Homo sapiens: one gene and its partner. The protein of the gene in region 1 purifies or fractionates together with the protein of each later gene. This does not show direct contact. Each region holds a gene or a part of one and is shown on either strand. Other genes may lie near its edges.

What was found.
Region 2: the proteins of C10orf71 (region 1) and FGF1 purify together in Homo sapiens (affinity purification with mass spectrometry; one large-scale study listed by BioGRID and IntAct). This does not show direct contact.

The regions. Positions count from the first base shown.
Region 1 is NC_000010.11:49,297,534-49,301,282, reverse strand, and holds the start of C10orf71 (cardiac-enriched FHL2-interacting protein), read right to left. Parts: upstream 2,114-3,749; 5' UTR 2,050-2,113; exon of another isoform or gene 1,994-2,049; intron 1,986-1,993; exon of another isoform or gene 1,829-1,985; intron 1-1,828. UniProt on the Homo sapiens protein: Plays an important role in cardiomyocyte hypertrophy via activation of the calcineurin/NFAT signaling pathway.
Region 2 is NC_000005.10:142,598,979-142,602,627, forward strand, and holds part of FGF1 (fibroblast growth factor 1 isoform 1 precursor), read right to left. Parts: intron 1,828-3,649; coding exon 1,724-1,827; intron 1-1,723. UniProt on the Homo sapiens protein: Plays an important role in the regulation of cell survival, cell division, angiogenesis, cell differentiation and cell migration. Functions as a potent mitogen in vitro. Acts as a ligand for FGFR1 and integrins.

The DNA.
Region 1 (3,749 bases):
CCACTCCAGCCTCGATGGACCCTGTTGGGGAGCAGCAGCCCTGTGTGCCCCTGTAGCGTGGCCTTCTCTCAAAGCCCTTTGCTTCCCTCCAGTAACCCAGGGCATATGGAGTAAAATCCCAAGAGCCAATGAGGAAGACGGCCCAGTTCTGGTGCCACCAGCAGGCTTGGGTTCTTGAGATTTCTGGCAGAGACTGGAGGAATAGGGCTATTTCAAGACATGAGGCCTCCCCTCTTCAGTAAGGGTCTCCAGGGCTTCCTTAGGGTCAGGAAAAGACAAAGACACTTACTTCTGTCCTGGCAAAAAGAAATCAAGGTGGGAGGATGCAAGGCCATCTCTGGCCTTCCTGTCTACTCTCAACAGCTTTCTCTCCCCAGGTTCCAGGAGACCTAAGCCCCTCTGCTCCAGGACACAGCATTCTACCAGCCCCCTTCTTACCCACCGCACACAGTTGTTCCCTTCCCAGTGAGCTTCTGGTCATCCAAGAGCAGACAAACTTGTTCCCAGAGACCCAGGGGCAGATGTGTGTTGGACTTGGGTCACCCGGGGAAGGCTATTTATAAATCACCCCGATAAGCACAATCTGCCCTGCTCAGCCCAGGCCACATGGACACGCTGTGTGTCTGGTGATTCTACTGCTAAGCTAACCCTCCCAGCACCGTGACAGCAAACTGGACATTTCCTGTATCAGCCAGGCCTAAAAAGTGGGCCCTGGAAGGTGCAGGAGGCTCAGGAGCCAGCCAGCCACTGGTCCTGAAGGGTCTGGCTTACAAACTATTCTAACAGCAAGAACTTTCACTGCTTTTTTTTTTTTTTTTTTTGTATTAAATTGACCCATCTCAAGATGTGTTCTTGTAACACAGTGGTCAGCAAACTTTTTCTGTAAAGGGCCACATTGTAAGCGTTTTCAGTTTTGCAGGCCATATGGTTTCTGCTGATATAGTGTAGAAGCAGCTTTAGACAATATGCAAATGAATGAAGGTGGCTGTGTGCCAATACAACTTTATTTACAAAACCAGATGCTCAGACCACAGACCAGAGTTACCAGCCACTACTGCAAAGGGAACTCAAATGCTGGAAAACAGGACCTCATTTACTACACACATCTGTTTAATCTGCTTCCCAGGTTCCTATACTTAGGGAGCTACCTGAAAGGCCTACACAATGATTTTTCTTAAGGCTATCTAGCTTTCCACACACATTGACCACTGCCGTTCTCAATGTTCAATTCTTCTCCACCAGAAAATAAAAGAGGTAATTTTAGACTCAGTCAAGCATACCCTGTGGGAGTCTGGTGGGGGCCCTCCCAGGGTGTGTAAGAACAGGCAGCCTGTGGCGGGCTTTGTTTTGGGGACACACATGCTCGCAGAGCCCACAGGCCAGAACGTCTCAGTCACCAGTTTTTCTCTTTGTTACAGCTGGTGTGACCCTGCCTGGCCCAGCGCTGGGGGAGCTAAGAAAGCCAGCCTCCCTCAGCCCTGAATGCTGAAAACCTGGGACCATGGGGTCACCCATTTGACAGCGCAGTGGCCTGGGCACATCTGTGCACTCAGCCATGTGGGAGCAGAGATCCCTGACAGATGACACCTAAGGACAAAGTCACACATGTACACGGTTCCGGGTACGTGGTCCCCGAGGCCCATCCAGCACACCAAGAACCTTAGCCCCAACACCAATGGGCTCCCGGCACACACATACCACCCTGCACAGCACCCTGGCACCGAACTACTTCCCCAGCACAGCATCGGCCCAGCGGGAACATCCCTCCCGCCATGAACTTGAGCCTCCCTGCCCACGCTAAGGAGCCAGACAAGTGTCTGGGCTGTACCTTCCGCTCTCTGCGTGTCCAGCTGCTCAGGCCTCCTCGGGAATGGGAGAGAAACCCGGCTCTGCCCAGCAGCCAAGACTTCTTTCCTCTTTATCCAGGCTGCCCAAAGGTGATAGGAGAGTGGATTCAGGACCCAAGCCTCCTCTAGCTCACAAACCTACCCACCTGAGGAAGATCAGTGACCAGAAGCCGGCCAGACACGGGAAGTCCGCGAAGCTTACCTAAATAGAGACCCAGCCGGGGGAAACCAAATGGTGTTCTTGGTGGGGAAGAGGCAAACAGTCCGCACTGCAACACCCGCGTGGTGTCAAGTAACAGTCAGATTAAACAAACAGCCTCAGCTGCTATTTTTACTTCCAAATCAGCCACGAGTAACAGATCACTTGGGGAGTGAGAAATTGCTTGCCGCTTAGCCGGACCCTAACCACGATTCCAACTTCAATCCAGAATGATTGCTAAAGCTATTCCAGCACCTAGAGTCAAATAAAAATATCCCGAGGTGGGAAGGAAAACATTTGTTTAGGGAAACATTAAAAACAGGAGAGTGTGTGCCTTGGAGCCAGAGCCCAGAGCCCTGCTGATGTCCCGGGGCAGAAATAGCCCGTTTCATCATCGGCTCTGGACGACCGCCGCCCGCATTCCTCGAGTAAGGAGCCGTCCTCTGCTGTGCTTTTGGAGCAGAATAATCTGCAGCTAGGGGAAGGCCAGGCTGGGTCTCAGGGTGAGAGTTACAGAAGGATATGAAATAATCGGGGAAGAGGCAAGGTAAGTGTCCACTTGGTAAGCTTGGCTACAGCAAGCCCGGTTGTTTGCAAAGTCCAAGCACCAGTGGACAAGTCCCGTTCTGCCAGGCTCCCCTCTCCACCTCTGGGAAGGGCTGGCCTCCCTTCAACCCTGAGGTGGGCTCATGCCTGCCTTCCCAATGGCTGCTTTCTGTCTCAGGCTGGGGTCACCTGCTCCCCAAACTGCCCACAGATCCCCCAACTTTTTCCACTGGCTTTTCCTTGGCTTGTGCCATGCCAGCTCCCAGAGTGCCTTCCTTACTCTCCCAAGCTGGCCCTAGGATAGTCTGCTTGCTACCAGGATTTAATGCAAGAGTGGGTTTTTTTCCCCCTTTCTCTCCAAGGTTCTTTTTTATGCTTCCCTGACTGTGGCCTGAGAAAGCGGAGATGACTGGCCCCCGCTGGGTGTCCTGCTCTGTGCAGCGCTCAAAGCCTCTGCAAGTTTGCAGTGTGCTGTGTCTTTGGGTCTATTTGTAGACTGTCCCTTCTGCCCCTGTGGGCTCTTCAAGGGCAGCAACCTGTGTCCCAGCCCCAAGCTGGGGCCTGGCACCACCTCCAGCCTTGAACCGGCTGACAGCCAGGGCCACAGGGACCCAGGTCTATGTACTTTTGTCTAAACCAAGTCACAAAGAACAGCTCCTCCTTGCCCTGCAGACTAAGGTGTGAGATTCCAACCAGCAGGAGCATTCAGACCCGCCTCCTCCTGGGAGCCTCAAGACTTGCCTTTTGCCCTGAGAGCTTCAGAACCTCGCTGTGGGGATGATTACTTGCTGCTCCGCACTCAGAGATGCTTTGAGGGAGGCCCAAAGTGAACCCCTCAATTTTACCCACCCACCTCCCTACCTCCCCATTTGCCAAAACAAACGCATGCCAAAAGGTCAGACAAAAGCCATCAACTTGAGATGGGAGCCAACATTTAAAAAGTACACAGGATTTTGAGCCCTGGCTCCATTATTTCCTGGTCAGTTGACATGTCACATACTTACCCTTCCTGAGCCTCAGTTTACCCATCTCTAAAGTGGAGAGAATGCCTGTGCTCTGTGGGATTCAGGGTCAGGGGAGCTCATGTACATGAATATGCTCGTCTATTGCAAAGCTTCCCAAAATGTTAGTCATTTATTTGTTATTTTTTCCCATGA
Region 2 (3,649 bases), on another chromosome or scaffold:
AAGCTGATGACTTGTCTTACAGCCACCACTGGTCTGTGACGTGCCAGCCACTCTGATGGGCGCATTCTGTGTGTTGCACCACTGAACCCATGTACGCTCTGTGTGAGGCGGTTATGATCCATGACTGTCCTCATTTTAGACAAAGCTCAGAGTGGGTAAGTGACTTGCCAGAGTGGCAGAGGCGTGAGATTCAATCATGAGTCTGAGACTAAGCGATTGACTGATGGATTGATTTTACTACCACTTGGAAGAACTACCTTAAAAAAATCCCCTACTGCCAAACCCCTTAAAGCCGTCCCAGGTGATCTGTACTGAGCACATAGCATTTTAGAGGTTACCTATTACGCTGATGATTTAATCTCCTGATCCCTAGTGGGCAGTGAGAGGAAACGAAGCTGTGTTCACATTGGGACCCTTGGCTGAGATGACAACTTCAAGAGAGGGTTTCTGTGCCCTCTGTCACTTGGCAATTCGATGTAAGTTGAAGCTCCAGACTAAAATTCCCCCTACTGACTGTCTTTTTGAAGACATCTTCATAAAAGGGAGGAAAGGGGTGTGGATTGGGCTAGGAATTACAGCCAAGCCTTAGTTTATCAACTGTTAGGATACAGAGGAGGGAACATTAAAATCTAGAAATAACTTCAAAACCCGCAGTCATTGGTTTAAGCTGTCTCTCCAGTTAACTCCTGTCACAGAGATACCAATAGGGGCAAAATCACATTGCCTCTATTTCTATTCCTTTCCCATAAAGACCTATCTATACATGGTCAAACCTGTATAAAGCACTAGCTATGATAGGGAAAGGGCAGGGAACATGGAGGATTTTAGCTACTGAAGAAACAATTAGACTATGCCTCTCCATTGCAGCTCATTCATCCTCACACCCTTTCAGTACCTAACATGGCACTTAGACACAGGAGACATTTGATAAATGTTGAATTAAGTTATTAAGCTTTCTATCCTTTTAGGTGATCCTTTCAGAATAAAAGGGGCTATTTTCAAAGTTTTGTGCATGACATATAAACTATGAAAGCCCAGGCTCTGCCATTTGTGTAAAAAGCAATAAGAGACACACCTATAGCACGTAGTACCTAGGTACTCAAGAAACATTTTTGGGCTGTGTGTGGTGGCCTATAATCCCAGCACTTTGGAAGGCTGAGGCCGCTCGAGCCCAGGAGTTTGAGACCAGCCTCAGCAACATAGTGAGACCTTGTCTCTACAAAAAATAAAAACATTAGCTGGGCATGGTGGTATTCATCTGTGGTCCCAGCTACTCAGGGGGCTGAGGGGGGAGGATTTCTTGAGCCCAGGAGTTCGAGGCTTCAGTGAGTCATGATTGTGCCACTGCACTCCAGCCTGGGCGACAGAGCCAGACCCTGTCTCAAAGTGAAAAAAAGAAAGAAAAACATTTTTGGAATGAATGAATGAATGAATGGAATGGGATTAGATATTCTAAAATGAGTGATTGAAGAGTTACCAAAACATCAATCAATCTTTACTCTGTGTTTATATGATAATACATTTGAGAGTTTTGAGAGAATACTACAAGAAACTCTTTTATGTTTGTGCCTAAAATAAAGCAGAGTGAGGGTGGGAATCCTTCTGGAAAAAATAACAAACAGAGACTAATTGTTGCTTTATAGTTTGCCTCACTCCATGTAACAAGATTTCTGGAAACCTCAAACCTTGGCCACGTCTGGAAGCATGTCAGCTTCATACTTACTGAGCCGTATAAAAGCCCGTCGGTGTCCATGGCCAAGTACTGGCCAGTCTCGGTACTCTTTATATACACCTCCCCCACGCTTTCCGCACTGAGCTGCAGCTGAACTGGAATAAAAATAACACGAGCAAAAGTAAATAAACACTACGCTTTTGCCGATAGGACCCGGCAGCCAGGACAGTTGGCCATGGAAAATTCTGCTCATTCATTTCACGGAGCCCTCAGGGATGAGCCTCAGATTAATCAAAACATAGAAATACAGTCCCTTTTTCTTTGCCTTCCAAAGAAAGCTGTCCATTGGGAATTACGTCCTTGGGAAAGGAAGGAGAGACAACGGCCGGCTCACCTACCTGTCCACCCTGTTGGTTACAAAATGACCCTGAGTGCACCTTCACGGTGCCTCGCTCCTTTCTTTCTGTCACTTGTAGGAAAATAATCACAGGAGGAAATGGCACTCACTCCCCCGGGCTCCCTCATCCCTGCAATCTTGGGATGCCATAGAGTAGGATCTGGCCAGCCTGCATGTGTTCTGCTTTCATTATCAACCTGCACAGGGGTGCCTTTTAATTGTCTGGGCCTTCTAGTCATGGGAGAGATTCCTGTCCGCAGATCGTTATTTTATAAAATCTGAGATTGCTGTTTTCCCTGAGACAGAAGAGGTTCCCAGGGAGTTAGGACTGGTTGCCACATATGAAACTCGGGGAACTCCCTCACAATGAAGTTTCCGTCAATCCCTCAGCCTCTATGGCAACCCACCTGGGGTAGAGGCAGAGGGGAGATCACCAGCTTCTGATGGGGGGAGAATGAAGCCGTTACCTGGAAATGCAGTGATGAGAACAGTGGTTCTCAACTGGGGGTGATTTTGCTCCAAAGGGGACATTTGGCAATCTCTGAAGACAGTTTCTGTTGTCACAGCTAGGGGGGGCGGGTGCTACTGGCATCTAGTGGGTAGAGGCCAGAGATGCTGCTAACATCCTACAATGCACAGGGCAGCCCCCAACAGCAAAGAATTTTCCAGCCCAAAAGTCAGCAGCGTCCAGGTTGAGAAACCTGGAGATGGAGGGAAAGGACTATGAGTTACAGAGTCACACTCTCCTCATTCACACTGATTGACACTCCCAAGGTGCTGGACACTTAATTGGAATCCAATGTCCATTTGATAATTATTAACTTGTTTATTCACCCTAGGGTGCCCTCTTGAGAAAGGTGCTTTGATAATTCACATTTGGGAATTGGAATTAATTCTAGACTCTTCGGGATAATTTATTTGGTCACTAGACCGTCACAACCATCATTACAACTAGGAGTGAAATCTAGACCAGGAACCAGTGGCTGCCCAATAGTTAGTTCCCTAGGAGGATGAGGGGGCATCTCTGAGGTTCATCTTGGCAGAGGCCAAGGGGCAGGAGAGGCTGGAACACACAGAGCTTTGGTTGGTAGATCTCGACCCCTCATTGCCTTTTCTTTGTGTTCTTTTCTTTTTTTTTTTTTCTTTTGAGACGGAGTCTTGTTCTGTTGCCCAGGCTGAAGTGCAGTGGCGCGATCTCGGCTCACTGCAAGCTCTGCCTCCCGGGTTCAAGCAATTCTCCTGCCTCATCCTCCCCAGTAGCTGGGATTACAGGCATGCACCACCATGCCCGGCTAATTTTGGTATTTTTAGTAGAGATGGGGTTTCACCATGTTGGCCAGGCTGGTCTCGAATTCCTGACCTTATGCTCTGCCTGCCTCAGCCTCCCAAAGTGCTGGGATTACAGGTGTGAGCCACTGCGCCTGGCCTGTTTTCATTTTTAATTTAATTTCTTTGAATAGGAAATATACTTCCATTTTCCCAAACAGCAGAGGAGATAGTGAAAAGCTTCGTTCTGGAGTGCACATCTCCTGGGGGGATGCAGAAACAAGGAAACCCCTCCTAGACACCTTGTGTGTGTA